Homo sapiens: one gene and its partners. The protein of the gene in region 1 interacts with the protein of each later gene in a pairwise test. Each region holds a gene or a part of one and is shown in the gene's direction. Other genes may lie near its edges.

Evidence for each region.
Region 2: the proteins of WASL (region 1) and NCK2 interact in binary tests that used the Homo sapiens proteins (3 or more experiments, as listed by UniProt).
Region 3: the proteins of WASL (region 1) and ARHGAP12 interact in binary tests that used the Homo sapiens proteins (3 or more experiments, as listed by UniProt).
Region 4: the proteins of WASL (region 1) and TNNT3 interact in a two-hybrid assay, tested with the Homo sapiens proteins (one large-scale study listed by BioGRID and IntAct).
Region 5: the proteins of WASL (region 1) and UBASH3B interact in binary tests that used the Homo sapiens proteins (3 or more experiments, as listed by UniProt).
Region 6: the proteins of WASL (region 1) and ARPC3 interact in binary tests that used the Homo sapiens proteins (3 or more experiments, as listed by UniProt).
Region 7: the proteins of WASL (region 1) and UBASH3A interact in binary tests that used the Homo sapiens proteins (3 or more experiments, as listed by UniProt).

What each region holds. Positions count from the first base shown.
Region 1 is NC_000007.14:123,685,979-123,690,715, reverse strand, and holds part of WASL (actin nucleation-promoting factor WASL), read left to right. Parts: intron 1-1,565; coding exon 1,566-1,674; intron 1,675-4,737. UniProt on the Homo sapiens protein: Regulates actin polymerization by stimulating the actin-nucleating activity of the Arp2/3 complex. Involved in various processes, such as mitosis and cytokinesis, via its role in the regulation of actin polymerization.
Region 2 is NC_000002.12:105,887,310-105,891,976, forward strand, and holds part of NCK2 (cytoplasmic protein NCK2), read left to right. Parts: intron 1-4,667. UniProt on the Homo sapiens protein: Adapter protein which associates with tyrosine-phosphorylated growth factor receptors or their cellular substrates. Maintains low levels of EIF2S1 phosphorylation by promoting its dephosphorylation by PP1.
Region 3 is NC_000010.11:31,907,629-31,912,365, reverse strand, and holds part of ARHGAP12 (rho GTPase-activating protein 12), read left to right. Parts: intron 1-1,802; 5' UTR 1,803-1,841; intron 1,842-3,439; 5' UTR 3,440-3,510; coding exon 3,511-4,194; intron 4,195-4,737. UniProt on the Homo sapiens protein: GTPase activator for the Rho-type GTPases by converting them to an inactive GDP-bound state.
Region 4 is NC_000011.10:1,936,052-1,939,788, forward strand, and holds the end of TNNT3 (troponin T, fast skeletal muscle), read left to right. Parts: intron 1-162; coding exon of another isoform or gene 163-203; intron 204-911; coding exon 912-952; intron 953-2,386; coding exon 2,387-2,441; 3' UTR 2,442-2,651; downstream 2,652-3,737. UniProt on the Homo sapiens protein: Troponin T is the tropomyosin-binding subunit of troponin, the thin filament regulatory complex which confers calcium-sensitivity to striated muscle actomyosin ATPase activity.
Region 5 is NC_000011.10:122,661,826-122,666,562, forward strand, and holds part of UBASH3B (ubiquitin-associated and SH3 domain-containing protein B), read left to right. Parts: intron 1-4,737. UniProt on the Homo sapiens protein: Interferes with CBL-mediated down-regulation and degradation of receptor-type tyrosine kinases. Promotes accumulation of activated target receptors, such as T-cell receptors and EGFR, on the cell surface.
Region 6 is NC_000012.12:110,433,819-110,438,063, reverse strand, and holds the end of ARPC3 (actin-related protein 2/3 complex subunit 3), read left to right. Parts: intron 1-911; coding exon 912-980; intron 981-1,380; coding exon 1,381-1,507; intron 1,508-1,859; coding exon 1,860-1,954; intron 1,955-2,846; coding exon 2,847-2,909; 3' UTR 2,910-3,241; downstream 3,242-4,245. UniProt on the Homo sapiens protein: Component of the Arp2/3 complex, a multiprotein complex that mediates actin polymerization upon stimulation by nucleation-promoting factor (NPF).
Region 7 is NC_000021.9:42,444,136-42,448,514, forward strand, and holds the end of UBASH3A (ubiquitin-associated and SH3 domain-containing protein A), read left to right. Parts: intron 1-398; coding exon 399-508; coding exon of another isoform or gene 509-698; intron 699-2,921; coding exon 2,922-3,059; 3' UTR 3,060-3,549; downstream 3,550-4,379. UniProt on the Homo sapiens protein: Interferes with CBL-mediated down-regulation and degradation of receptor-type tyrosine kinases. Promotes accumulation of activated target receptors, such as T-cell receptors, EGFR and PDGFRB, on the cell surface.

The sequences.
Region 1 (4,737 bases):
TATCCTCATTTATTTTAAAAAGTTTAAGAGTTAAATTTCTATTTACTTTCTCCATAACTTTCTCCCATCCCAACTCTCCCTTTCTTTCCAAAAAAAAAAAAAGAAGCAGCAAAACCTGTTAATTGATGTGTAAGAATGGGGGCCATTTTTATCCTAAATAATCACTTTCCTTTTGATTGCATTTATTGCAATCATAGGGTGCATAATCAGTGAACTATTGGCATGTTATACATGTAATCCGAGTTCGTTATTTTTTGAAAAAGACCATTTTGTGGTTGAAATTTCTATGGCTATGTTTCTTTAAATTTTTTGAGTAAATCATCAATTTATTCTGTGATGAATATGATTAACATAAAACCATAGACTTACTTTAAAGAGCTAGTAGGAGGTATTGAATACTCACATATATTTTTGAATTCCATGGTTTTAGTACCTCAAATAGTACTTTGTTCAAGTAAGCACTTCAAAAAATGTGTTTGATGAGAGTATGCTCACTTCTGCTTTGTGCTCTCTGCTTTACATTATCACATTGCTTAAAGGTAGTCTAAATGTCCCTACCGCTGTTGTACCTCCTTGAGAGCCTTGTGCAGAAATACAAAGCTCTGAAACTCTCTGTTATCTTTTTTCATTTGTGGTACTTCTATACTGGAAATAGTTAATACATAATGTTTAAAGCCAAAATACTAAGGAATGAATCTATATCTTAGGGGGAACCACTTTGAATTTTTTTAAAAAAGGTGTTTACTCCAGAAAGAACAAGGAGTATTAGAGGAAGAATTGTACAGATCAAAATGGAAAGTTTGTCTAAATAAAATTGTCTTTGGGAAATGATTAAGAATTTCAAAAATATATATTATATATGTATGTATTAAAACATAGGTAATTATTTAATACAGCTATGCTGTTTCATCTTTAATTATAATTTTTTTTTTCATGAATGCACTTTGGCACAGCTGGAAGTACTTCAGTTAGGGATTGTTACTTGCCTAGTGAGGCAGGTACATTTTGAAAGTTGATCAACTCATCTCCTTAAAAAGAAATTATATACTATGAGAAAAGAGGTTCATTTTGAAGGTATAAATGTAACATAAAGGTGTAAAGCTGAATTTTTGTAGGCAAATATAAGTTTCTACAGTTGTTTTTCAATATCTTCAGTGTGCGTCCCACGTAACAACTCTGGAGTCTAAGTATTAACCTCTGTTTATAACATGAAATCCCTTGATAAAAGCTTTAAAGTTGATCATCTAAGTCTGTGTGTGCTGGAATAAACAGAAGTAACCCAGCAAGTATTATTCAGGAGAGGGTTTGTTATCTGAATGTAAACATAGATTTGGAAATGTATTTTTGGCTTATACATTAAGATGGAAAGGAAATATTTTTGAATAATATCTTTAAGGCAGCAGTTTATTTCTTGTTAATTTGATTAATCTTGTCCTGCGCTTGCCAGTTTGATATCTTTTTTGTCTTTTACAATAAGAAGTGATTCTAAGAAAGTAGGACTTTCTGGAGACAAAGATTCTTGGCTAAAGATTTATTACTGAGTTTTGCTAACTTTCTTTTCCAAGGTGGCTGATGGCCAAGAGTCTACACCACCAACACCTGCACCCACTTCAGGAATTGTGGGTGCATTAATGGAAGTGATGCAGAAAAGGAGCAAAGCCATTCATTCTTCAGGTAGAGAGAGAGAGAGAGAGAGAGAGAGAGAGAGACAGAGAGAGTGTGCGTGTGTGTTTAATAAATTTGAATGTTTGACGTTCTGTTATTTTTATGACTGTCTTTGCTAGCTTTCTCTCTGCTAATTGAGTAACTACTGATGTGGGCTCTAGGATGTATTTTAAAAAGTTGTTGCCTGTGTGACTAGTCTCTCTGAGACTTAACAAATGCAACACCACCACAGCCATAGCCATAAATTGAAAGAACAGCTTTGGGAATATTGACAGTTTTGTTTCCTATATCAGGAAATGCTAATAGACTTCCTAGCAAACAACCTCTAAACAAAGCTTGAGATTTTTAGATCTCATTCCTGTGACATTACTGTGACATGAAAAATTCAGGGCTGGGTGCGGTGACTCACACCTGTAATCCCAGCACTTTGGGAGGCCGAGGCGGGTGGATCACCTGAGGTCGGGAGTTCGAGACCAGCCTGGCCTACATGGAGAAACTCCATCTCTACTAAAAATACAAAAAAGTTAGCCGGCGTGGTGGCGCATGCCTGTAATTCCAGCTACTCGGGAGGCTGAGGCAGGAGAATTGCTTGAACCCAGGAGGCAGAGGTTGTGGTGAGCCAAGATCGCACCATTGCACTCCGACATGGGCAACAAGAGCAAAACTTCGTCTCAAAAATAAAATGAATAAATAATAATAATAATAAATCGGGCCATTTACCTCATCTGTAAGGATTAGGGATAAGAATTTCAGTAATTTTTACTGTTTCTAGAGTTTGCTAAAGAATACTAACTTTTTTTAAACCTTTCTTTTTCATTTTCTAAAAGGTTGATTTGAAGAAACCAGTACCTATTCTGAGGTTATTATTAAACATATACATACCACCATATAAATATTCCTTTAAAGAAAGAACAAGAATATGAGTTTTGCTGATTGGAGTAGTTGAGGTTTGCTAAATAGCTTCTCCAACATGATGTGCTAGAATCAGATCTTTCTTCTTAGATTTATTTAATCTCTGTGAGCCTCAGTTTCTTGTTTGTTACATTCAGAGAACTCACAAAACATATAGATGTGAGAATTAAATAGTATGTCACTAACCTGCAGATTGCCTAGCACATAGTAGGTGCTTAATAAATGTTACCTTCCTTTTGTTTCTCTGTAAGGATGTCCATGTCTTAAGATCCTTGAGCAATGTTTGTTTTCCTTAAATAGGCATATTTGTACCTACCCTCCATTACAGAGATAGAGATAAATATTTATTGTGGAATAATAATAAAATTTTAACAAAAAAAAAGTCCCTGCCTTCATCGACATGCATTAGGTCTAATGAGAGAGAGAGACAAGCAATAAACAAAGAAAACTAGAAAAACATACAGTATGTTAAATGGTGACATGAAGTAAGGACAAAAGTCTAACAGAAAAGGGAAATAGGGGGCAGACTGTTGAGAGAGAGGTTCATTTTGAAATGATAAAGGATGATAAGGGACAATAAAGCCTAACTGAGGTGACATTTGAGAAAAGACCAGCAGTTCAGGAAGTGAACCATGTAGAAAACTAGGGAAAGTGTATCCGATGGAAAGAACAGAAAATATAAAGTCTGTGAGGTTGAGAAACAATGAGGAGATCACGGAGCTTGCAAGGGAGGGAGGGAAAGAATAGTAAGGAATGAAATACAAGAAGTAGTAGGAGGCCAGTGGTAAGGCTTTGGAGACCCCTGAAAGTGCACTAGCTTTTATTCTGCATATGATGGGAAGCCATTGGAGGGTTTTTAGCAGAGGTGTAGTAATGATCCAAGCAAGAGGTGATGGAGGCTTGAACCAGGTTTATAGCACCAATGAGAAGTGGTTAAATATTAATTATATTTTGAATGTGGAGATCACTGGTTTTGATGATGGTTTGAAAGTGAAGGTTGAAGAAAAAGAAGAGTGCAAAATGACTCCAAGGTTTTTGACTTGAACAACTGGAAAGGGGAAAGACTTACGAAGAAAAAGTTTGAGAGGGAAGATTAGGAGTTTGATTTTACATATTAAATTTGAGATACCTATTAATTCAACTATAGATGTGGAGTAGGCATTTCGTTATGAGTCTGGAAGTCACAGGAGAGGTCTGAATTGTTAAATTGCATGTCAGTAGGATATACATAGACACCTGGTATTTAAAGTTATGGTTATGTTTATGGTATAGTCTTCTTTAGCATAAAAACAGTGAAAATTACCTAAATTCTTAGCCCTAATCCTCACAGATGAGGTAAACTGCCTGAATTTTTTATGTCATAGTAATGTCATAGGAATGAGATCTAAAAATCTCAAGCTTTGTTTAGAGGTTGTTTGCTAGGAAGAGATAAAGAAAGGTCTTCATTCATTCATAAAGAAATGTAAGGCTTCTGTGAACTACATGATTCTGAAAAAGCATTTATTCTATGCTGGTATCTGTGAGTTCTGCTAAATATTTCCCTACAATAAGTTTTTTTTTAATAGTATGTAATAGTCACGCTAATATAATGAAAATATAGGATGGTTTTTACTTATTTTCAGACCCATTTATTTTAACTGTTAGTATTTCTGTGGTAGTACCTGATGATGAAATTATTAGCTACTTCTTCCTCTTCACCATAGATACTGATAAGTTTCTGTCTTTTGTCAGTCTGTAATGCCAGCATAGTCAGGTGTCTTTGATGCTTTTCATCCAGGTAAATTTTGTGAAGCATGTCTAGCAAAATCTGGTAGCAAATTATTTCCCTTGCTAGAAGAGTAAACAGAAATTAACATGACTCAATTGAACTCCTTTCCAAATAAATTCTGTAACAATTTAGAGCTGACCATGAGACTTAAATAAATAAATAAATAAATAATAAATAATTATCGTTTTAAAAGTAACAACTTAGTTTAGGGCTAAGAGAAGATAATGTTGCTTCTCTTGGGCTTCTGTTAATTTTCAAGTTCTAATACTAGAGCTCCAGTACTTCTTCAAATACTACCTTCACACAATCAATTTTACATGAGAAAAATAGAAGAAAAAGATTGTTCTGTGTTCTGTACATGTAACCCACACGTATGTCACCTAGTCTTACTG
Region 2 (4,667 bases), on another chromosome or scaffold:
CTTCTGTAAAGAAGTAAAAGGGGAAAAACATGTCTTTACCAAAAGAAAAGAATGATACAACTTGTGATAAGAAACCAACAGGGTGACCTCTCTCTGGGGGTAGAAGGAGATGTGTAGATTATTGATGCTTGGAGACTTCAGCGTGGCTGGAGATCAGTCCAGGGTCTGTGTGGAAGGCCTGGTGAATCACACAAAGGGCATTTCTACCCTCATCATTTCATAAAGTCCAAAGTGAAAGATAAGGAGAAGTTTTAAGGTTTAAAGAACCAAAAGTACCTGGAGCAAGGCCCCTCCCTCCCGTTTCCTCATGACTATTGTGCTTAGAAGAAAATCGCATTAATACATAAGCTTTCAGGAATGGAGGAGGAAATAAAGGATATTAAAGTCTGTCCTCGGCATTCATTTTTTTCCTTCTATGAGAAAACAATGATTAAATCTTGAGAGAGGGAGAGGCGTATCTGATCAGGACATCTGTTTTATAAAACTGCAAAGGTGCTTTTCAGCAAGTATTTGAGGCAATGGATCAAGCTGGCAAAGCCATAGAGATGGGATCAAAGAGTGTGCTCTCTACTGTTCTTTTCTAAAAGTACCCACTTATCGCGAGCACAAATTGCAAAGAGATGAGGTGTAAGAATTACCTAAAGGAATGAATAATGGAAGAGGTAGTCAAAATTAGAAATTTTTAAGTCTGCACGTTTGTTGAACACCAGATACTCTGAGCCCGGTGTGGGGATGTGGAGCTAAATAGGGTTCTTGCACTTAGTTGTATTCAAACACAGAATCTAAAGCCTAAACAAAAATAATGATGATAGAGGCCCCGAGAGAGGTTGGTTTTCCGCCAACCTATTAATTGTCCTTAGATTCCACTTGGAAAATGACTTCTGAAAAGAAGGGTCAAATGAATGGGTTGTACTAATTGTTCATTCTCCAGAACCATTGATTCAAAAACTATGAGAATGGAAAAATCATTCCTTATAAGGAGTACTCATAGAAGGACATAACAGGAAGAAGTGGTCTGATGTTTGAAAATTTGAAGAATTTGCCCAGTAGTCAGCACAGAGAAATTACTATATACCAAGTAAGTACAGTGTTTGGAGATGGAAAGTGTAGGAAATGCGGACAGTGGGAGGTAGCACAAAGGTGGCAATTAAAGAGGAGAAATCAAAGGGGAGATGTTTCAAAACCCGGGGACTGAGTCTAGTTAGGTTTTAGTCCAATCATAGAAAATTGTAATGAGTGTCCTGTCCATCTATGATGGCTTAAAAAGATGTCCATAAATTCTTTGGTACTCTTTGCTTCAGAAGGTGGAGCCTGACCCTCTTCCCTTCAGCATGGGCTGCACTGAGCAACTCACTTCTAATGACCAAGATGTGGCAGAAGCGATGGAGGGCAGCTTCCGAGATGGGCATTGTGGCTGCCTCTTTGCTCTCTCTTGGGTCACTTGATCTAGGGTGAGCCAGCTGTCATGTTGAGAGTACATTCAGGCAGCCCTACAGAGCCCCCTAGGGGTTCATGTGAGCAGACTGCCTTGGAAGTAGAGCCTGCATCCCCAGTCTAGCCTTCAGATGACTGCAGCCTCAGCCAGCATCCTGACTGCATGTTTCAAAAATGTGTTAAGATTCTTTGACAAGCTTAAATGTAGAGTACTCTACCATACTATCAGTACTCTAGTACTTGTTGAGGAGCAAGTGTGGCATGGTCCTTTTTCATCCAATTTCTTGAAATCTGTTCTAGAAAGCCAACCGTGGAAGGACTGCAACAGATGAGAATAGGACTGATGGAGTTGCTTTCATGGGAATCATTCCCTGGCTCCCTCTGGAGGCAGAGTTGTTTTGGGTCGGGAGTAACTCCATCTCCATCAGATGCAGGGACTGGTGGCTCACTTTGAAAGGAGGAGACCATACAGCAGTGTCCCAGCTGTCCCTTCAGGGGAAATTCCCTATGAGAGATGTCTGGAGCAGAGCCAGAGTCCTCAGGACAGAATTGGAAAAGTATCCACAGACTGGAGCTCCCTCCATCATGGGCTGCTTTGCCCATAAATGGCATTCCCATCTTTTTCTGGTGACCAAACATTTGTTGGTGGCTCCAGCACTGCCGATGTTTGTTCCAGATTTTCTTTCTTCCAGTTCTCAAACTGCATCAGAGTCCCCTGAAGGGCTTATTAAAACACACGGTGCTGGAGGTTAAAACACAGATGGCTGGGCTCCACCCCAGAATTTCTGCTACAGCAGGGTTGAGGCAGAGCCTGAGAATTTGCATTTCTTTTTTTTTTTTTTTTTTTTTAATTATTTTGAGATAGGGTCTCACTCTGTCATCTAGGCTGGAGTGCAGTGGCCCTGTCATACCTCACTGTTGCCTTGACCTCCCGGGCTCAAGTGATCCTCCCACCCTGGCCTCCCAAGTAGCTGGGACCACAGGTATGCATCACCACACCTGGCTAATTATTTTAAATTTTATGTAGAGATAGGGTCCCACTATGTTGCCCAGGCTGATCTCAAAGTCCTGGCCTCAAGTAATCCTGCCACCATGGCATCCCAAAGGGCAGGGATTACAGGTGTGAGCTTCCATGGCTGGCCCTTGAGAATATGCTTCCTAACCAGTTCTCAGAGGATGCTCATGCTGCTGGTCTTGAGAGCACACTTGGAGAACATCTTAACTAGTTCATCTTCACACTTCACTTAGAGGTGTTCAGTGGTCATATGTAACGGTGTATGTTAGTATACAGATTGTTCTTTTTCAGATTTCCTACAGAAAATCTACTTAGTTTAAATTAAAGAACACTCCCCAACTTTTAGCACTCCTGCTTGGCATAAATTGGTTCTACATCCTTAACTTTTAAAGGTTTCTGCTCAGGAGCCCACGAAATTAAAAATTACCTCTTCTGCTGCGAAAATTTTATTGCTGCAACTCATGCATGCATACAGGCACACACACACCATGATGTTAAATTAAGGAGCTTGAATTAAAAGCAAATTTCCCTTATGTAGAAAGTCATCTGTTGATCATTTGGCTTAATTAAAATTGGGTGTATCTTACATCTACCATGATTCACTCCCATACTGCCTCCACTAAAAATGATGCCACATTATCTCTAAATTGAGCCTGGCTTATAGTAAACTCTATAAGTGAGACTGCCCTTCATCTTTTCCTAAAGATACAACTTCTAGTACAGAATATTAATCATCTATAGGCTGAGGCCTAATCTGAGATTAACCTTCTGGTTTCTTCCTGGAGTTTCATCCAGGAGTATGCCCTGGGCCTCACATGGGGATGAGATGGGGCTTTTCGCCTCAAAGGTTTGTTCTTATTTGGTCTATTTGAGACAGAGGCATGCATAAATACAAACTATACTTACAATTGTTCCTTTCATTCTTTTCTGTTAACAGCTATGGCTGCTGGGTGAGCCCAGCTGCCTTGCACAATTTGAGTCTTCTCAGACACTCATTCCCCTGAGTTGTCATTGGTAGAAATGGAGTGATTCCTTGTTTTGCAAGGGTTGCACACTTCTCATCAAACATTTATTTGGGCTTTTGTGAACTCTGTAATAGACAATGGCCTAGTCCTTTGTTAACTGTCTGGAGGTCCTGCTGGGAGGTCGCAGAGCAGGGCTGAGCTGCTGGACCCTCAGAGCAGGAAGTTTCTGGGCTTTGAGAAAAGCAGAAAACTGGTCTGGGAATTCCAGGAAGAATTTCGGATGTTAGGCTGTGGTCCTGCCACTGGCCAGGCATGTCCGAGGTACCAGCCCTGCCTCGGAGAGCACATGCTCAGCTCCACATTGTCCAGAGGGCTCTCCTGCCCCCACACGCACTTATACATTCACACAGATGAACTCACACGCTACGCATACTCTCACACACTCTCAATACTCACATACTCCCTCTCACATCTGCGCACGCTCACACACTTAGAGCTGCGGTATCTCATGCTCCTCTTTCATGCAACTCTTTTTTTTGTTTGTTTTCTTTTTTTTTTTCATAGAACTTACTGCCCTGTGCAGCCATCTGTACACCTCTATTTATCTGTTCCCCACACCAGATTGTCACAGAGCATATGTCCTGCATGCACACACATGTATCCAGGGCACCGCCTGCCTGGCATGTGTTAGTAACTAATTGTTATTCATTTAATGAATTGATCAAAACTTGATATTTTTGTACAAAGAACATTTATCGTTCAGTATCTTCTTTCCTGCATGCTTTTCAGCAAATGAGATAAAAGACCAATTTTTTTTTTTTTTTTTTTTTTTTTTTTTTTTTTTTGAGATTTTTCGCTCTTGTTGCCCAGACCAGAGTGCAGTGGCGTGATCTCAGCTTACAACTTCCACCTCCCAGGTTCAAGCGATTCTCCTGCCTCAGCCTCCCAAGTAGCTGGGATTACAGGCACACTACCACCATGCCTGGCTAATTTTGTATTTTTTAGCAGAGATGAGGTTTCACCATGTTGGCCAGGCTGGTCTCAAAGTCCTGACCACAGGTGATCCACCTGCCTTGGCCTCCCAAAGTGCTGAGATTACAGGCGTGAGCTACTGCACCTGGCCAATAAAAGACACATTTTAATTAAAATAATGACATGTTTCTAAAATATTCTGAAATAGAAGGCACATCACAGAATTTAAATATTTTTCAATAAAATCTGTAATCAAACCATAGTTCAGCTTCCTCTGGGAT
Region 3 (4,737 bases), on another chromosome or scaffold:
CTTGTTATTCTTCATCCTTCTTTTCTCCATTCTTAGGGATAAATGTCTAACTAACTATAGTATGTCTGAGCTGCTGTAACCTTTTGAAAAGTAGCTGCATATTCCCTCGCTCATCTCTGTATCTTCAAAGATATTTCTTAAGTTATTTTATTACTTTCCTGGAAAAAAAATCACCTAAGGATAAGCATTTCAGGGTAAAATTTTGAAAAGTTGTGAAAAATTTGTATAGGTAAATGATCAAAGCACATAGTGACTAGCGTTCTGGTAATGCATGAAAGTAACGACTGAGCGTCTGAAAGGTCAGAATTCCTGTTTACTGTGATGGAAGAGACCATGGGGTGAGCATATTTGGCAGAGCTCGGGTAGGGTAGAGATGGGAATACATTTTGGTTATGATAAGTTTGAGGTATTTATTGGACCACCAAGTAGATTTGGTTATTATGTATTAATAGTCTTTTTTAGTCTAGAAGAATCCCCCTCCCTTGACAGTACTTTTTTGAAGAGTTCAGGTCTGTTGTCTAATAGAATGTCTCACATTCTGGATTTGTTTGATTGTTTTCTAATAATTGCTTAAGGTGAAACATGCTTTTGACAAGAATATAACGTAGGTGACATTGTGTATGTTTTATTGCATCACATAGGAGGCATATCTTGTCAGGTCGCATTAGTGCTCTTAAGTTTGATCATTTGGTTAAGCTTATGCCACCACATCTTTCCATTGTTAAGGTATTTTATCCTATTTAAGATTAGTAAGTAGGCTGGGTGTGGTCGCGCCTGCAGCCCCAGCACTTTGAGAGGCAGAGGTGGGTGGATCACATGAGCCCAGGAGTTTAAGACCAACCTGGGCAACATGGTGGAACCTCATCTCTAAAAAAATACAAAAATTAGCAGAGTGTGGTGGTGTGCAACTGCAGTTCCCGCTACTCGGGAGGCTGAAGTGGGAAAATTGCTTGAGCCCAGGAGGTGGAGGTTGCAGTGACCCAAATTGTACAGCTGCACTCCAGCCTCCGTGACAGAGTGAGACTGTGTCTCGAAAGTAAATAGCCAGGTGCGGTGGCTCATGCCTATAATCCCCTCACTTTGGGAGGCTGAGGCAGGCGGATCACCTGAGGTCAGGAGTTCGAGACCAGCCTGGCCAACATGGCAAAACCCCATCTCTAATAAAAATGCAAAAATTAGCTGGGCATGGTGGCTCATGCCTGTAATCCCAGCTACTTGGAAGGCTGAGGCAGGAGAATTGCTTCAACCTGGGAGGCAGAGCCTGCAGTGAGCCAAGATCGTGCCACTGTACTCCAGCCTGGGCAACAGAGACTCTGTCTCAAAAAATAAATAAATAAGATAAAAAAATAAATAAAATAATTAGGAAGTAATCAGGGGACAAATGTGTTAGGACACCTAATAACTTTTAACATACGTTTTTATTCTCTTTACCCATTCAATACATAAACTTGAAAAACAGTTATTTCATCCTCACAGTTTTATAATAGAAGAGATGTTTGTTGTATAATCAGAAGTTTAGAAAGATGCTTGTCAGAATTAAAAATAAGGGACAAAATGAAGTTTGAGACAGTGTGGAAGTACAGTGGGAGAGGGCAGTGGTAAAGCCAGCCTCAGTGGCTGTTGGTGGTTGTGTTTGCATGTATTTGGAGGGCGGTGCTGACCACAATCTTGATGTATAAAACTTTCCTGATTCCTTATAGCTATTATAAAAAAAGTTTTGCTTTTAAAAATGTAAGCAACATTATATTCTTAGTCTTCAGCGATCTTGGTTTGAGTTAATGAACTTATTTATTTTTTTACAGGTTTAAATGTGATACTGGTGTAGATCTCCTTGTTCTAAGGTAATTTTTTATTTTTTGAAAATGTGTTGTATTAAATTTGTTAGTCAAGTAGTTTGTCTAGAAAGTAAATTTCAGTTAACAAAATTGTATCAGTGACTAATTGACTTACCACCTGGCCTTATAGGCGTTATCTGTCATAGAGAAGATTGTTATCCTCAGGAGAATGATGGTTACTACACCTGTAGTGTAGAATAATATGCTCAGTACTTGTTTGCTATAGAAAATTAGTAGGTTGTTATGGAACCTTGGGTTTGCACATTTTTGGTAAATCTCAGTTTGCCTTAGGATCCTTGAGCATTGGGTTGAATGTATTAGTTTCCTAGGGCTGCTGTGACAAATACTACAAACTGGAGTGCTTAAACAGCAGACAGTTATTTTTATTCTCTCACTGGTCTGGAGGCTAGAAGTCCAAAATCAGTTTTGGCAGGGCCGTGCTCCCTCGGAAGGCTCCAGGGGAGAACCCTTCCTTCCTCACCCCTGCCTGACTTCTGGTGGTTGCCAGCAGTCCTTGGTGTTCCTTGGCTTTTAGCTGCTTCACTCCACTCCAGTTTCTGCCTCTCTCTTCAGATGGTCTTCTCCCTCTGTAGCTTTCCTCTCTGTAAATCTCCTCCTTTTTTTCTTTTTATTTTGAGACAAAGTCTCACTCTGTCACCCAGGTTGGAGTGCAGTGGTGTGATCTTGGTCCACCACAACTTCAGCCTCCTGGGCTCAAGAGATCCTTCCACCTCAGCTTCCCAAGTAGCTGGGACTACAGGTGCATGCCACCACACCCAGCTAATTTTTGTAATTCTTGTAGAGGCAGGGTTTTGCCATGTTGGTCAGGCTGCTCTCAAATTCCTGGGCTCAAGCAATCCACCTGCCTCAGCCTCCCAAAGTGTTGGGAATATAGGTGTAAGCCACTGTGCCCTTAATCTCCCTCTACTTATAAAGGCACCAGTCATTGGATTTTGGGGCCCACCCTAATCAAATATGACCTTGTCTTAACTTGATTACATCTGCAAAGACCCTCTTTACAAATAAAGTCACATTCACAGATCCTGGGGTTAGGACTTGAACTGTCTTTTGGGGGAACACAATTCATCCCCAAACAGGTGGGAACTGGCTCATGCTGTAGTGATGTGAGGATGCAGTGATCATTTAAACCCGTAATGCCGTGTTCTAGGAGGTGATCATTTAAACCCGTAATGCCGTGTTCTAGGAGGTACTAAAATATTTTGGAATTGTTATAGAAATGAAAGTAAATGCATATTAGTTATTAGTGAGCCTTTCTAAGAAGGTGAAGGAGGTTTGAGGGAGTAATGAAAGGAAGGAAAGTTCTTCTCAACTCTTGTGTCTACCTGGTTAGTGTATATTTACTGTTCCAGTTATCGGCTTTTGTTTTGGTCATAAGTGACTGAAAAATGTAGATTACAATTAGAATGAAAGTGTTTTTAATGTGGCAGTGCATATGATAGTAGACACATGTTTGCTTTTTGGGGTTTGAGATTTGAAGTAATGTTCTTTAAATGGCCTATACTATATGATGCTTGTGAGTAAATACGAAATCCAGATTGCATTAACTTTTTTCTTCATTCTCTTTCTCCATTTAAATAAAACAGCTATATTCATCCAACAAGCCATAAAGCCATAATGTGGTATAACATCCTTTTTGAGAGGTGAATATTATTGAATGAAAATGGCTGACAGAAGTGGGAAGATTATTCCAGGACAAGTGTATATTGAGGTGGAATATGATTATGAATATGAAGCAAAGGACAGAAAGATTGTGATAAAACAAGGGGAGAGGTACATCTTGGTGAAAAAGACCAATGATGACTGGTGGCAAGTCAAGCCAGATGAAAACTCCAAAGCGTTTTATGTGCCAGCCCAGTATGTGAAGGAGGTCACGCGCAAAGCTCTCATGCCACCTGTTAAGCAGGTAGCTGGTCTGCCAAATAACTCCACGAAAATAATGCAGAGTTTGCATCTTCAGAGATCAACAGAAAATGTGAACAAATTGCCTGAGCTTTCAAGTTTCGGAAAGCCATCGTCATCTGTTCAAGGAACAGGTCTTATTCGTGATGCCAATCAGAATTTTGGACCCAGTTATAATCAAGGTCAGACTGTCAACCTAAGCCTGGACCTGACCCATAATAACGGAAAGTTTAACAATGACTCACATTCTCCTAAAGTTTCCAGCCAGAATAGGACACGCTCATTTGGTCATTTTCCCGGTCCAGAGTTCTTGGATGTAGAGAAAACTAGCTTCTCCCAGGAACAATCTTGTGATTCCGCAGGAGAAGGCTCTGAAAGAATACATCAAGATTCTGAATCTGGTGATGAACTTAGCAGCAGCTCCACTGAACAGATAAGGGTAAGATTAAAAATAGAATGAGGAAACACTGTACCACCCTAGTGAAAATATTAGTTATAGTTTTAATTGAAATATTTGTAAGAGTTAAGACTTGTTTTGCTTTGTATTTTCAGAGTACATGGGTTCTATCCTGATTTAGAGATCTAGAAAATATGTGAAATAACTTGTGGAGTTCATAAAGGGTCACTTTGGTTTTCATAATTATTCTTATACCATGACAGGACTAGATCTACTTTAAGTGAGGAAACTTTTTTTCCCTTTTCTCTATTGATTATGTATAAGGCAGAGGGGATTTACTTAATTTACTCAGTGATGATATTTCTTCTAATAGAAAAAATTTTTACTCTTTTTTACCTGTACCCATTTTGACTTGGTTCCAAGAAGTCTTCAGGTAATAATGGTTATTTGAGGAAAGATGTCCTTGGAATATTAACTGCTAACTTTTGTCTTAAGTGTCTAAGTATCCACACTTGATTTCACTGAGTATTAGTCTGGAAAAATTTTTCTGTGTTCCTGGTTCTTTTTTTTTTTTTTTTTTAAGAC
Region 4 (3,737 bases), on another chromosome or scaffold:
CAGAGCTGAATCAGGGACCCACTGGCTTTGGATAGATGCGGCCACAGCGGGCCCCCAGGGGCTCCAGAGCCTGGAGGGCCATCACCAGGCCAAGCTAGCCCACAGCCGGGCCTCGATGCCCCAGCCGCCCATCCAGCCTTGTAACCATCTTGGTCTTTCTAGATCATGAATGTCCGGGCCAGAGTGCAGATGCTGGCCAAGTTGTAAGTAGCCGGGTCCGCCCTGGGCCAGGCCCGTGGGTGTGCGTTGCACGGTGAGGTGAACCTCTCGCATGGCAAAAACCTGGATCGCTCAGGATGCTGGCGGCAGGGGGCCTGGAGCCTTCCTCCTGCCCCCGCTCTCCCCTCGTGCCTGCAGCCGGGGGCTTCCCAGTGGCCGCTGCCCTGTTGGCAAGCGAGGAAGGGCCCCCACCTTCCCAGGAGCTCCGCCTCAAGCCAGCAGCGGCCACAGAGTGCCCCTGGGCACAGGCACGAGGGCGGGAGCGGCTGGCCCAGGAGCAGCAGGGCCGTTCGGAGCTCTGAGCTCAGCGGCTGAAGGGAGCTGGAGCTGAGAAGGAGGGGTCCGCAGGCCTCACCTGCAACCCCTCCCCAGCCCCATCCGTGCTCCGTACCCCCCGCCCCACATCCTGCCGCAGGCTGAAGGTAAGTGGCCAGCTACGGGCTGCTGTGTGTGGCAGTCCAGGCCAGTACAGGCTGGCGAGAGTAAGTCCAGGCATGAGCCCAGGGGCCACGGGACGGTGTCCCCCTGCACAAGGAGCCAGGAGACAGTAAGGGAGCCGAGGAGCCCTCATGGGGGCCCAGCAGCCCTGGGTCGCGCAGCCCAGCCCACCCTGCGGTGGAGACAGGCCTTCACCCAGTACACGCAGGCCTGGCCCTCGGGTCGTCGCAGTGAGTCACTCATGTTGTTCACAGATCACCACGCTCAGGAGCCGCATTGACCAGGCCCAGAAGCAGTGAGTAGCCCTGCCGTCCTCGCTCCGCACTGGGCACAGGGGCCCTTGGGGCCAGCCGCTGTAGCCAGTCCCTAACAAGGGCCGGTGGTGGCTGGCCTCGGCAGGGCAGTAACGAGACTAACCCGGCCAGGCCACCCAGGCCAGCATGCGCAGGCCTGTGGCCAGGGACCCGGAGCCTCCTCCCTCTCCTGCACGCAGGGGAGCCCTGGGGGGTGGCAGAGTCAGGAGGAGGGATCCCAATGGGGCTTGCCTGTCACGCCCTCGCCCCGAGTCTGGCACTGGCTGCAGGGAGAGGGCAGCCAGGGGACCCCTAGAAGGGGCTACTCGGGGGGCCTTTGGTGTGGCCAACCTGGGCCCCAGGGTATCCCGCCAGTGTCCCACCCTCCAAGGGGACCTAGGACAGGGAATTAAGCAGTCAGGGCTTCATCACCAGCCCCTCTGTGACGCTGGGCAAAATCATGGACTCCTCAGGATGGTGAAACCTCATCCATAAAATCGTGTCCCTGGGGGCTGTGGGATCCCTTGACACAGCTACTCGACCACCTGCATGGGGCTGCACCCAGGGTGCCCCCGGCGATGCCACGCTGGGGATCCTGTCATGGAGCCCAGCTGCACAGCCAGTGCCATTTCCCCAAGGATCGCAGTGTTTGGGGGCTACTTGGAGTTTCGATGTTTTCTGGGATTCTTCTCCCTCCTCCTGTCGCCTTGGCTTCCCTGCGGCGCCCAGGGCGGGCTCCTCCGTGGTGCACGTGACCTCACGGCCTCCCTGTTGTGCCGTCAGGGGTCATTGCAGACCCCTCTGAGGGTGGGCAGTCGGCGTGGTGTGCATGTGCCTGCGTGTGTGCATGTGTGCATGTGCCGAGAGTGCCCAGGAACGTGTGTGAGGGCACGGCCTTTGCCAGCCAGGTGTCCTGCTGAGCAGCCGCGTCTGAATGGGGCCGGCCTCGCGGGCCGAAGCACTCCTGTCCTCCACCCGCCTTCACCCCTCACCCGCACCCAGCTCCTCCCGGCTCGTGGCCACATGAAGACCTCAGACAAATGGGGCAGGCTCCTGGGCCCCTCAGAGGCCACCGTCTGGAGGGGCATGAGCTCTTTCAAGGCCAAGCGTCTAGGATTATATCATTATCTGCTAAGACAGTCTTCCCCAGCTCAGGGGTCTGTCTGCAGTGGTACCTCAGGCAAAGAAAGGAGGACAGAGGGAGGGTGCCCCGGGCTCACGTGCCAGCCCCCTAACCACACTAACGACCTAGGCCCGCCAGGCACAGGTGAGTGGGCACTGCCCGGACTGAAGCTGGGTGTGGGCCGCAAGCTTGGGCCGGGCCTGTGCCCTGAGAGCAGCCTGGGGTCGGGCTGAGAGTCCGCCCAGGGTGGGGGACCAGGAGGGGCATGGCCAGAGGCCCTGACCCTGAAGGATCACTTGCTTCCCATTTGCAGCAGCAAGAAGGCTGGGACCCCAGCCAAGGGCAAAGTCGGCGGGCGCTGGAAGTAGAGAGGCCAGAAAGGCCCCTCGAGGCAGAGACCCTCCGCCCTCTTGCACACCAGGGCCGCTCGTGGGACTCCACATCCTCCAGCCCCCACAATCCTGTCAGGGGCTCCCTGACAGTCCTGGGGGTGGAGAGGCCATCCCGGGGCGTCCCCCGCGTCTGTGTCCTTGCTGCCTTCATCCCCTGGGGCCTGTGAATAAAGCTGCAGAACCCCCTTCACAGTCTGTACTTGCTTCTGCATGGGGGCCCCGGAGGACACGAGAGGAGGCAGGTAGGGGCTAGCCAATGGCACAGCGTCCTGGTCATCCGCGGGGCCAGCTCAGGAGGGCACTGGCCAGTACGCGCAGGGCCAGCTCAGGAGGGCACTGGCCAGCACGTGCCACCTGCTGCTACGGCCAGGGCGGTGCCTGGATGCCCATCAGACGCTGCCCACAGCTTTTCCCTCTAAAACGTGGGCTCCATCCCCGCGCAAGCCTATAGGGCCCCTCCACTCTCCACTCCCATAGGGTCTTTGTGCAGAAGGGGGTGATCTGCAGGCCTCACCCCCAGCCCCAGACCCTGGCCATCTGCGCCAGCTGTCAATCCACTGGGGGCAGAGAAACTTTGCCTCGGGAGGGGGTGAGGGAGGAGGGCAGGGCTGCGAAAGAGACTTTGCCACCCCCCAGAAAGGCAGAGGCAGGCGGGAGCGGCTCCTGCGTGAGGGGTGCACCCCAGGCCCTGGTCGGGGAAAAACAGTGCAGGAGAGTGCACTCCCAGCAGACAGCAGGCAGGGAAGACACAGACAGCCTTCTCCGGAACGCAGGACAGCAGAGCGCACGCGGGTCGTAAATCTGAAAATCCTGACCAGAGAAAATTATGGAAAGTATAAATCATAGAAATTGGATCAAGACGCAGAGACTTGTACAGCAAAATATTCACAGAGGAAGGTTTGGAGTCCAGAACGGCCCCCAGAAAGACTCAGGGGCGGGCGGGCGGCCACATCCGGGAGTTCTGCTGCCGGGGATGGGGGCCAAGGAGCGGGGGATGGGGGGGAGCAGCACGGCCCCCTCAGTCTGCGATGGGGTTGGGGACAAGGCCAGGACCCAGAGGACAAAACAGAACCTCCAGATAGCATCACACACATGTGCAGACCCTGCAACACACACACACATAACATCACCCCCCACAACACACACACACAGAAACATCACCCCGCACACACACACATACAAATAATATCCCCCCCAACACATGCACACACAGAAACATCACCCCCCACAACACACACACACACAGAAACATCCCAGGTGTGTGACCCCACA
Region 5 (4,737 bases), on another chromosome or scaffold:
CTGAACTTTCCAGGCTACACGAGGTCCTGGTTCCAAAAAAAAAAAAAACAAAAAAAAAAATACCTTGATATGCTTTTTTTCTTTTTTTTTTTTTTTTTGAGACAGAGTTTCGTTCTTGTTGCCCAAGCTGGAGTGCAATGGCGTGATCTCAGCTCACTGCAACCTCTGCCTCCTAGGTGTCAAGTGATTCTCCTGCCTTAGCCTCCCAAGTAGCTAGGACTACAGGTATGTGCCATCATGCCCAGCTAATTTTGTATTTTTAGTAGGGACAGAGTTTTATCATGTTGGTCAGGCTGGTCTCGAACTCCTGACCTCAAGTGATCATCCCGCCTTGGCCTCCCAAAGTGCTGGGATTACAGGTGGGAGCCACCCTGCCCGGCCAGCCGATGTGCTTTTTTTAAAAAAACTTTTTTGAGTTATAACTCATGTACAATCAGCTAACCCTATTTAAAGATTGATACATTTTGACAACTGTACCTGTGTGATTACCTGCTACAAGACACAGTACGTTCACTGCCCCTAAAAGTTTCGTTTGTACCCCTTTGTGGTTAGTCCTCTCTCAACCCCCAACCCTGAGCAGCCACCAGTCGCTTTTTCTTTTCTTTTCTTTTTTTTTTTTTTGAGACAGTTTCACTCTTGTTGCCCAGGCAGGAGTGCAATGCTGCGATCTCAGCTCACTGCATGCAACCTCCGCCTCCCAGGTTCAAGTGATTCTCCTGCCTCAGCCTCCCAAGTAGCTGGGATTACAGGCATGCACCATCACGCCTGGCTAATTTTGTATTTTTAGTTGAGACAGGGTTTCTCCATGTTGGTCAGGCTGGTCTCGAACTCCTGACCTCAGGTGATCCGCCCGCCTCGGCCTCCCAAAGTGCTGGGATTACAGGCATGAGACACCACGCCCAGCCCAGTTGCTTTCTTTCACTGTACATTAGTTTGCATTTCCTAGATTTGCATGTAGGTCATACAGTGCATACCCTTGTACTTGGCTTCTTTCCTTCAGCATATTTTTTAGACTCATCCTGCATGTATCAATAGTTTATCTCTTTTAATTGCTGAGTAGACCTTCAGGTATTTGGATGTGCTAGTAGGGTAATTATAACCCCTTGCACACAGCTTCTATGAAAATTCCCTCTTACGCGCTAATGTCTTTTTTTTTTTTTTTTTTTTTTGAGATGGAGTCTCGCTCTGTTTCCCAGGCTGGAGTGCAGTGGCACAATCCCGGCTCACTGCAACCTCCGCCTCCCGTGTTCAAGCAATTCTCCTGCCTCAGCCTCCTGAGTTACTGGGACTACAGGCACATGCCGCCATGCCCAGCTAATTTTTTGTATTTTAATAGAGACATGATTTCACCATGTTGCCCAGGCTAGTCTCGAATTCCTGAGCTCAGGCAATCCGCCTGCTTTGGTCTCCCAAAGTGCTGGGATTACAGGCATAAGCCACCGCGCCTGGCCTTACGCCAGAATTTCTAATAATACCTTAAGTTTTTAGACCATGTTCGAGCTTACAAAGCAGAGTCACATACATAATCACTATTAAGTCTCAGACATTGATAATTTAATGAGGAAACTGAGGTTTGGAAGATTAAGTACTACAGAGATTGAAGAGTATCCTGCCTCACTGTTCTATCCTGTGGCTTTGATCACCACCTGCTCCCCACCCTCAGCTGCCTCAAAGTCCAGCTCCCTTTCAGGGAGTGGACAGTCATTCGCAGAGCTAAAGGCGTTGCTTTTCAGAGAGGCAGCCAACCTAGGGAATCCTGTGTCTCCCGCCAGCTTTGCTCCAGCTGATGATGATGTGGTGGTACTATCACTGCCTCCCCAATCCCAGCCGGCATAAGCCTGTGTAAGGGTATCTCCTTTCTTGGCCATCCAGAAGCTGAAGAGACCCCATCATTATCTGCCCCATCCATCCTGCCCTGATAGACAGAAGTCTGAACTTGTGGCAGCCTGGCTTTGAATTCCAGCTCTGCCTCTTACCAGCTGAGGGACTGACCTTGGGCAAGTTGCTGAACATGCTAAGCCTCAATTTTCCTGTCTGTACAATGCAGACAATAACAGCACTTGTCTTGAAGGACCTTTGTGAGAGAAGGGTGCCAAACCACGCAAACAGCTGGAGAGCGCCTGGCATTGGGCACACCCTCAGAAATGAGGTCGGTATTAGTGCTACTCAAGTGGTGATGTTACTCCACATGGCTCCCTCTGTGGTTTGGTTCCTTGGTCGCCTTCCACTTTTATGGTTCTCTGTTCCTCACTGAGCTTTGGGTATAAGGCTGTAAGATAGGGCAGAGGCCAGTGGATGCTTTCTCCCTGATAACTGCATTCTGCTCTCTGTGCTTCTCTCTCTAGAGTGCCCAGAGGGGTGCGGGGCCTGAGAAAAAGCAGACCCAGGGCAGAGAGAGCACCACCCAAGCTGCTGACTATAATAAATGGCAGGGGCTGGGGACTGGAAGGGGTACCATATGGTTGTCTTCTGATTACTTTCAAATGGAATCAGACTCAAGCCTAAGAGAGAGAGTGGGGAGAAAAAACCACACTCAAGAATGGATCCTCTCTGCAGGGTGACAGACTCAGCCAAGCAGAATGCAGAGCCATTGCCAGAAGAATGAGATGACTATGATCCTCATTGAACTGAACACTTTTGTCATTTTCATGGATGGATTCTCCCAGGGGCCACTTTCTATTTGCCCAAAGGCTTATGGAGAATCTGTGGTTTTTCTCTTTTCCCTGGAGGATGGGTGGGTAGATGTGGCAGTGATCGCAGTCCTCTGGACCCTCTGCCCGGGGCCCTCGGTATGTGATAGGTGATCCCTTTTCTTGTTTCATCTTGCTCACATCCCTGTTTTCCTGGTGACTTTGCAGTCATGCTCTTTGCCACTTACTATCTATGACGGTGAGGCCCATGGTGAAGTGTCCTAGATGAACATCCAGAAACTGTCTGAGCTCTTACTGTGCATGCAGCACCCTGCTAAATTCTGTGCAGTTCTCCGGAGGAAAAGGTAAATGTCAGGTTTTTCCCATCTGGCACTCTGAAGTCAACTGCTCTTTTGAGCTGGCTGCACGTTCTCCACAGTGACCCTCGGAGGGCAGGCCTGCCTTTTTTTTGAGACGGAGTCTCGCTCTGTCGCCCAGGCTGGAGTGCGGTGGCGCAATCTCAGCTCACTGCAAGCTCCGCCCCCCGGGTTCACTTCATTCTCCTGCCTCAGCCTCCCAAGTAGCTGGGACTACAGGCGCCCGCCAATACCAGCTAATTTTTTTGTATTTTTAGTAGAGACGGGGTTTCACCGTGTTAGCCAGGATGGTCTCCATCTCCTGACCTAGGCCTGCCTTTTTGAGGCCTGCTGGGATTACAGGTGTGAGCCACTGCGCCCGGCTCGTGTGTGTTTCACTCTGTCTCCCAGGCTACAGTGCAATAACACGATCCTAGCTCATTGCAGCCTCGAACACTTGGGCTCCAGTAATCCTCCTGCCTCAGCCTTCTGAACAGTGAGAACTACAGGTGTGCCCCACCACACCTGGATAATTTTAAAATTTATTTTATTTTTATTTTTGTAGAGATGGGGGTCTCACTACATTGCCCAGGCTTGTCTCAAACTCCTGGGCTCAAGTGATCCGTTCGCCTCAGCCTCCCACAAGTGCTGGGATTACAGGCATGAGCCCCTGCGCCCAGCCTGGACCAGTGTTTTTGGACAGCACGAGGATGCTCTCACTGCTTCATGGGTGTGCTTCTCTGTTCCAGAGCATTTGGCTTTTCTGTTCCTGTTTTTGTTTTGTTTTTCACAGTGCTTTATGGTCAAATTCTTCTCCTCTCCCTTTAAAGAAAACTCTTCAGGACTTGATATTTTAGAGAGTAAATAAACGGAAAGGAAGAAAGATATGAGGCAATTACAGTGGTGGGGAGCCGTTTACTAGTATGCAATAGTATAATTCTCAAATTGGTACAAAACAAAAACAAACAATTTGTTTTCTTGCAAAATACAACCAAAGTGCTGGTTAAATAAGAGGAAGGTAGTGCCTTGAGCCCAGCACCTGAGGCAAATAGATTGCTCAGGGGCACCTTTTAAATTAAAGGGACATCTTCCCTTCTGTGGAGTCACCAGCTGTTTGGGTGACACTTCCCGTTGTGCTCCCGGCCTCTGTGGAAGCATAAACATTCTTGTACATAAAGCAACTGTGGCAGTGAACTCCACCAGGACCAAGGCTGTTCTCGTGCAGAGTGGGAAGCTGAAAGAACCACCGCTGTAGCCTCTCATGGCAGTCTGGAAAATGCCAGGGGGAAGCCGACTGCACAGATGGCCAGAGGCAGCTGCATGCTCCCGATTTCTTTCAGGTTTTGTTGGGTGAACCTTCTTGGTGATTCAGGTAGCAGGATTGTTTAGAATCCTGCTTCCACGTTGATGGTGCGCCTTTCAAAAACATTTACAGAGAGCGTTCGCTCCCTAAGTGTTTATTCCTTTACCTTAGGAAGAAATCTGCCTCATGGCTGCTTTTGTGTACAGTCTATTTAGACACAGACATGTGGAACGATGCAGGGTCGCTGGAGTTCTCAACCATGGCATCTGCAGTTTCGTTTTTGTTTTTTTTTTCTTTTGTTTTTTGTTTTGTTTTTCGTTTTGAGACGGAGTCTCGCCCTGTCACCCAGGCTGGAGTGCAATGGCACGATCTCGGCTCACTGCAACCTCTGCCTCCCGGGTTCAAACAATTCTCCTGCCTCAGCCTCCTGAGTAGCTGGGATTACAGG
Region 6 (4,245 bases), on another chromosome or scaffold:
TCAACCTCCCAAAGTGCTGGGATTACAGGCATAAGCCACTGCACCTGGCCTAAATTTGTGTAAAATTTGACCCAAAGTCCATACCACATTTGATCAACATTCATTTGTCTTCTCCACATTTTCTTTTTGGTTAGGTCAAGACATTGAGATTATGGAGTTCTTTGGGAGCAAGTCAAATGTGAAATAGTTGCTTCCTCCTTTAGAGTAATGACTATTTCTGTTCTCGGCAGAGACCCTGAAGGGAAGGGTTTTTAAAAATTAGCCAACCATATGGAGCAGTTCAGGCTTTCCAGGCAGCTTTGTTACTTCTTCCTATACAGTGAGGGGCTGTTGACACAGATCCTTGGGAACCCTGGGGCAAGGGGAGCCGAGAAAAACAAGAGAGAGCAGCCACTCAGCCGAGCGTGGTGGCTCATGCCTGTAATCCCAGCACTTTGGGAGGCTGAGGTGGACAGATCACTTGAGGTCAGGAGTTCGAGACCAACCTGGCCAACATGGTGAAACCCCGTCTCTACTAAAAATAGAAAAATTAGCCAGGCGTGGTGGCGGGCACCTGTAATCCCAGCTACTCGGGAGGCTGAGGCAGGAGAATTGCTTGAACCTGGGAGGTGGAGGTTGCAGTGAGCTGAGATTGTGCCACTGCACTCCAGCCTGGGCAACAGAGCAAGACTCCGTCTCAAAAAAAAAAAGCAGCTGCACATCTCAGAGTGGGGCTTGTGCCTTCCTCCCAGGGGCAGACGGAAAAGGAGACTGAGGAGACTGTGCATTTGGAGAATGGGAGTTTTGATGTGATAGTGGCTGTCCTACCACTGCATTCAGCAGATAATCAGAAGACAAAGATGGAATGCATACATTGCACATCATTGTTATGTTTTGATAACTGTTTTTAAGTCTTCTTTTTCTCCCTGTAGAATGAAGCTGATAGGACCTTGATATATATAACTCTCTACATTTCTGAATGTCTGAAGAAACTGCAAAAGGTAATTAAACTTGGATGATTGTATATCAGGAAAACAAATTGCTGAGAGGCATTTACCCTCCCAGTCATCTGGGATTTGTTGAGACTTTAAAGACAAGTAGAAAATATTTCCTCTGACTTACAGCATGGACTTAAGAGAAAAATTTGAATTTAGTTACCTGAACTTGTAGTATAATTGACTGACACAAAGATAAAAGTAGTGGTGTTTTAAGGCTTTGAATATATTTTCTCAAGACAGAAATCTTGACAGAGGAATTCCTTTTAAGCCCTTGACTCAAGGGTTCTTAACCTGGGGTCCAAGGATAGAATTCTTCTTTTCCCTGTAAAATATGTGTGTGTGTGTGTGTGTGTGTGTGTGTGTGTGTGTGTGTGTATATATATATATATATTTTTTTTTCCAGTGCAATTCCAAAAGCCAAGGTGAGAAAGAAATGTATACGCTGGGAATCACTAATTTTCCCATTCCTGGAGAGCCTGGTTTTCCACTTAACGCAATTTATGCCAAACCTGCAAACAAACAGGAAGATGGTAAGAACAGGTCTCTATCCTCACTCTGTGACACAAGAAGATTTTCTCCATTTGACTTCCTACCACCCCTCTTTTTCTTGCCTTGATTCATGTACAGATTGAGAGTGAAATCATAGGAAGTACATTATCTTATTAGTCACTCTCACAAACGATTCTTGGCAACAAGGATGACATGCAGAAAATCTTTTGAACAAAAACAAATATAGTTATAAAACTATCTGGACTGTCATTTCTATTTTGTATCCTGTTCAAATGTATAAAAATGTATTACCACAGTGAGCATCCAGAGCTGCAACCAGTACATTTGGGATGTATTTGCAAATACAGTTTTTTTTAAATTGTTCTGTTTTAGAAGTGATGAGAGCCTATTTACAACAGCTAAGGCAAGAGACTGGACTGAGACTTTGTGAGAAAGTTTTCGACCCTCAGAATGATAAACCCAGCAAGGTAAGACCCTCTTCTTGCCTGCTTAATTGGTAAATCACCTTTTATCCCATAGCCACCATTGAACACACTAAGGTCTTCCATTGCAAGAATATTTTTAATTTCTGCATTGCAATGTTGCTTAACTTCCAGTATATGTCTAGTATGTAATATGAGTTCACTGAATCACACTAAATAATGAATTGCAGGCCGGGCGCAGTGGCTCACGCCTGTAATCCCACCACTTTGGGAGGCCGAGGCGAGTGGATCACTTGCGGTCAGGAGTTCGAGACCAGCCTGGCCAACATGGTGAAACCCCCATCTCTACTGAAAATACAAAAAATTAGCCAGGCATGATGGTGTGCACCTGTCATCTCAGCTACTCAGGAGGCTGAGACAAGAGAGTCGCTTGAACCCAGGAAGTGGAGGTTGCAGTGAGCCAAGATCATGCCATTACACTCCAGCCTGAATGACAGAGTGAGACTTTGTCTAAAAAGGGTTTATGGCCAGGCGCGGTGGCTCACGCCTCTAATCCCAGCACTTTGGGAGGCCAAAGCAGGCGGATCATGAGGTCAGGAGATTGAGACCATCCTGGCTAACATGGTGAAACCCCGTCTCTACTAAAAAATACAAAAAATTAGCCAGGCGTGGTGGCAGGCGCCTGTAGTCCCAGCTACTGGGGAGGCTAAGGCAGGAGAATGGCATGAACCCAGGAGGCGGAGCTTGCAGTGAGCCAAGATCACACCACTGCACTCCAGCACTCCAGCCTGGGCGACAGAGCGAGACTCCGTCTCAAAAAAAAAAAAAAAAAGTTTATAAGAGATTCCAGACTAATGTGAAATTTTATTATTAAATAAATGCAAATTCTATTGTAATTTGACCCCGCTGTTCATTCTGTGTTGTTCTCTCTTGTTAGTGGTGGACTTGCTTTGTGAAGAGACAGTTCATGAACAAGAGTCTTTCAGGACCTGGACAGTGAAGGGAGCCCGGGCAGCCACCGTCTCCAGAGCCCTGGGCAGCATTTTCCAGCAAGATGTACACAATCTTTTGCCTTTATTTCGTAAAGTTTTATACAGAAGAGAGAAGAGCATGTCTTTACTTGAAAAACTCTTGATCAAGAATTTGGGTGGGAGAAAAGAAAGTGGGTTATCAAGGGTGATTTGAAATTTTCTGCAGCATTAAAGCTGGCGCTTAATAAGAATAAGTAATAATAAAGAAATTTCTAACATTCCATGTCAGAAAAACTTTATTGCCAGTCTTTGACATTCACTTACAATTTGTTTTGAGATAAAATTCACATTCCATAATGCCCTTTTAAAGTGTACAATTCACTTTTTTTAGTATATACATGAAGTTTTACAACCATCCCCAGTAAATCCAGAGCATTTTCATCACCCCGGTGTAGTGAACCTGCACTCTTTAGCAGCCACCCCACCCCACATTCCTCCCCAAGCCCCCTGTCCCTCCCACCCCTCCTCCCAGTATTAATCTACTTTCTGTCTCTATGGATTTGCTTATTCTGGATAATTCATGTAAATTGAATTTTTTATACAACATGTGGCCTTTTATGTCTAGCTTCTTTGACTTAATGTTTTCTAATTCATCCATGTTAGAGCATATATCAGTGCTTTCTTTTCTCTTTTTCTTTTTTTTCTCTCTGTGTATATGTATGAAATAAAATATACTAATATGGCCAGGCGCAGTGGATCACGCCTGTAATCCCAGCACTTTGGGAGGCCCAGGCGGGCAGATCACCTGAGGTCGGGAGTTTGAGACTAGCCTGACTAACACGGAGAAACCTGGTCTCTACTAAAAATACAAAAACCAGCCGGGCCGGGTGCGATGGCTCACGCCTGTAATCCCAGCAATTTGGGAGGCCCAGGCAGGCGGCTCACCTGAGGTCAGGAGTTTGAGACCAGCCTGACCAATATGATGAAACAATGTCTCTACTAAAAATACAAAAATTAGCCGGGCATGGTGGCACGCGCCCGTAATCCCAGCTATTCGGGAGGCTGACACAGAAGAATCGCTTGAACCTGAGAGGCAGAGGTTGCAGTGAGCCGAGATCGCACCATTGCACTCCAGCTTGGGCAACAAGAGCGAAACTCCATCTCAAAAAAAAAAAAAAAAAAAAAAAAAACTCAGCTGGGCGTGGTGGCGCATGCCTGTAATCCCAGCTACTCGGGAGGCTGAGGCAGGAGAATCGCTTAAACCTGGGAGGCAGAGGTTACGGTGAGCCGAAGGTTGCGGTAGGCTGAGATCGCGCCATTACACTCCAGCCTGGGCAACGAGTGAAACTTCGTCTCAAAAAAAAA
Region 7 (4,379 bases), on another chromosome or scaffold:
TCTTATCTAAAGCAGGAGTCGTAGCAGGCTCGTGTGACAAAATAACCGGCTGACCTTTCTAAAGTGAATCAGGTCTGGCTTGGGCGTCAGCCACCGCTACATCCCAGTCTGTGGCTGACGGGGCCCAGGCAGCCAGCGACCACAGGGGGTGGCTCAGCTCACTTCCTAGGCCTCCCTGAGGCTGGTGGGCAGCTGCTGCGTGCAGAGGAATCCATGAGCGAGGGTGGGACGCAGGCATCACTGAGCGGTTACCAGCCACACTACTTCTAGCCCGGGGGTCTCGCCAGGCTTCGGGGCACTCTGAGATAGCTCTGCCCCCCACCACTTTGGGGACCCCAGTCTAATAAAAGGTGCTCTCTGGGGCTGCTTTGACCTGGAGGTGTTCTTGTTTTCCACAGCGGGTGTCATCCTAATTGTGAGTCACGGCTCCACTCTGGACTCCTGCACGCGGCCACTGCTCGGGCTGCCGCCCCGGGAATGTGGGGATTTTGCCCAACTCGTGAGAAAGGTACGCGCCCACTCTTGGCTCTTTGGGCCACAAAATCAAGCATCCCGAAGACACAGGTTTATCTCATCCACTTCTCGGAATGAAAACAAGTGTCCGGCTGACCCAGGGCCACCAGGATCCACGTGCCCCCGGAGACTGTGCCCACCGGCTCTTATGCGAAGGGTGACTTCGGGCTGGGGCTGGTGGATAGGTCAGTCAACCTCATCATCATTGGCCACTTGCCAACTTTTTACCAGTCAGCTCATGCCATGACCCCTTGCAGCTCTCGTAGAAAAACAGACGGTCCAGGAAGGAGTAAGCAGTTTAGATGAGGAGGGAAGAAACGACTGTGGGACTCGATTCTGGCCTCTTCTGGGGACCTGGGGCAGGGCGGCTGATGGATGAAAAGGAGCCCCTTGATCCTCTTGCCCTTGGAGTCACCCAGCATGGAAGAAGCTTGAGCTGGTTGTAGCTGCCAGAGTGCTCAGGCTCTGGCAAGGGCCTTGTGAATGACAAACAGAGGATAACGCACACGTGACATCTTGGACAACCTTGATTATCACTCAGCAAAGCCAGAGGGTGATGTCCAGTCCATGGGTGAATTGAGGCAGGCAAACTCAGGAGTGCAGATCCCACCCCAGTCCCAGCCCTTCCCTGCAGATCTACTCAAGGCTGGACTCACCACAGTCCTGACCTTTTTATGAAATTCATCAGTCCACTGGTCAGTGCCCAGGCAGCACGTGCAGCATAGACAATGCCTGTCATCGGAGGTGCTTGAGGCCCTGACCTGGTTTCTTCACATAGCACTGCCACAGGACCACACTGGCCACAGCTTGTTTGCCATAAGTTGTGGGCAGCAGTGGGGGTTGCTGAGTCCCCCCAAGAGGTCAGGGGCTTCAGAGGAGCCCAACTCCCGGGCCCAGCCCAGTGACACCAGCCAGGTGCCTGCAGGAGGGCTTAGCTCTCTAGCTACGCCTGCCTCAGCAGCCAGATGAGAGGTTACGCACATGAAGAGCATGCCTGCCGTGGGTCATTGTCACTCAGCAATTAGGCATCAGACACCCGAATCTCCCTTTCTTGCTCCATTTTCCTCTGCACCTGAGTAGAAACATGCTTCCCCTGCAAAATGTCTCCAGGGTGGTGTGTCCCAATTATGATCCAGACATTTCCGAGCGCCCTGGATTCTTGAGCCACCAGGTGAGCATTGTCCAAATAGGGCAGCTCAACCCCCCTGGGCCACACTGGTAGAGGTCTGCATGGATTTTCCTGGGGACTGTCCGGGGCAGCCCCGGCACCACCTGCTCCCAAAATGTTGCTCTTGCTTCTGCAAATGGGTCTCCCACACATGCGCTCTGATGCATTCCTCCTGTCCCTGCCCCGCTTCCCACAGTCCCATATACACATACCAAGCCTCCAGCCCCAGGCGCTCCTGGGGGCCCACGTAACCAAGGGTGGCAGCACTGCACACACCAGCTGCTGACAGTTCCTCAAACCCATGAGCCTTTGTGGCCAAAGCTCCACCCACTCCTTGGACCCTTCACCCCCTTCCATAGATGCCAATCTTGAACTTCCAAACTCCTGGACTTTCTTATGCTGGTCACGTGGCGTTCACCCTGCCCCTACCCCAAAATAAGCTGGACTTGCTCATGCATATCAGAAAATACAAAGGGGGGGCTCTACCAAATGATGGGCCCCCAAATCAGGGCAGCTGGAAAGGGAGCACTCAGGACCCTCCCCGACCAGCCCATCACCGCCCCTCGCCCACAGCCTCTGCAAGCGTGAGGAAAGAATCACCCTAGGGTCAACACCAGCCTCACTCAGACCCCCCTGCCAGTTGGCATTTTTGTAAATTTCATCTGCCTGAGGAATTTCTAGACATTAGAAAGAGGAAGGAAAGAAAGAAAAGAAAAGACAAAAACAAAAAAGGCTTCACCACAAAGCTCTGTTCTCACACATCCATTTCACAGATGAAGGGATGGAGGTCTAAAGGTTCACTTTGTGCTTTTCTTTTGGGTCTGAAAACTCAATGTCTGTGTCTTTTTGTGATGCTGAATATGAGAATATGAGTCACTCCTTAAGTGGTGGATGGCAATCTCCACCTCAGCCTGCAGACCTTTGTGGTGGGGGCTGTTCTACTCATTGTAGGATGTACCACCTTGTAGGACCTCTACCTGCTAGGTGTCGGCAGCACCTCCATCCTCAGTTGTGACAATCAGAAATGTCTCCGGAATTACCCAGTGTCCCCTGGCTAGGGGACATCCCCCACGGGGCACCGCCAGGGCAGATGTTGGTGCCATTCAATGGTGGCAGTGCCAGCCTGGGCAGTCGCAGACCCTCCAAAGTAGAGGTGTGCCTGACAGTTGGCTTTGGAGCTAGTCTGAAATTGATGGACTTGCTATAAGATATTAACAAGTGATTTAAAACTCTGTTCCAGATCCCTTCCCTGGGCATGTGCTTCTGTGAAGAAAATAAAGAGGAAGGAAAATGGGAGTTGGTGAACCCACCGGTGAAGACCCTGACCCACGGGGCGAACGCAGCATTTAACTGGAGGAACTGGATCTCAGGCAACTGAGAGCCACGGTGATGTTGTCATAACCTCAGAGTGGAGAGGCAGAAACCATGTGCAGAGGCTGGGAGATGCTGCTGTTTCCAGAGGCGTCTTAGTCTCACCCAATGTGATTTGTAGAAGCACGAGACGCACTTTTATATCCCGGAATATTTCCCTCCGGCTTTCGCCTTTGTAACTCCCATCTGTGGACCCATCGTCCACCAGCCCAGCTGCGGGGAGCACAGGGCAGGTGGCTGGGTGAGGATGCCGCCCTGCAGCATGTACACCGAGTGTCTGCAGCTGGGGACACAACTGCCCGGGACTCTAACTTCCAGGAATTAAAGACTCACCACACACGAAGGATCTAACCACTTCATTTTCCATGGTCTAATCATTAAATTCCCAATCGTTTTTTCTTTTTCTGGGTCCATCACTCTTTAGCCATATCCACATGGGCTAAAACAGGTGTAATAGTCAATAAAATGGTCCCAGAAAACCATCGACCAGGTCAAAACTGGGTTGCTGCTCCGTGCTGTCAACATTCATGTTACTATGTCTCTGTGGTTGCTGTAACCAATGACCACAAACCTGGGGGTCATGGAAAGAACACAAACTTTACACACACACACACACACACACACACACAGGCACATACACACATGCACATATGCATACAAAGACAGGCACACACGAGCATGCACACACACAAACACGTGCACATACACATGCGCACACACATGCACACGCACATGCACACACACGCAGGTACACAAGCATGCAAACACACATACACATACAAACGCGTGCATGCATACATGCACACATGAGCACACAAACACATGCACACACTTGCACACATGCACACAAAGGCATACACATGCAATGCACACACACAAACACACATGCACACACAGGCACACACACGCTCACATGCACACACACACACGCTGACTCTCCTACGGTTCTGGAGGTTGGCATTTTCTCAGCAGGCTATGTTTCTTCTGGAGCCTCCAGGGGAGGATCCTTGCCTTTTCTCACTTTTAGAGGCCACCTGCATCCTCCCTCCTCAAGTACAGCGGCGTAGCAGCCTCCAAGCTCTCTCAGTCTCTGCCTTCACAGCCACATCGCCTTCTGCTTCTGACTCTCCTGCCTCCCTCCTACAAGGGCCCTTGTGTTGACACTGGGCCCACCCAATAACCCAGGATCAATTCTCATCTCAAGAGCCTTAACCACACATGCAAAGTCCCTTTTGCCACATAAAGTTGCATATTCCCAGGTCCCGGGGATTAGGACATGAACATCTTTGGGGGTTATCCTGTAGCCTGCCATAACATACCCCAATCC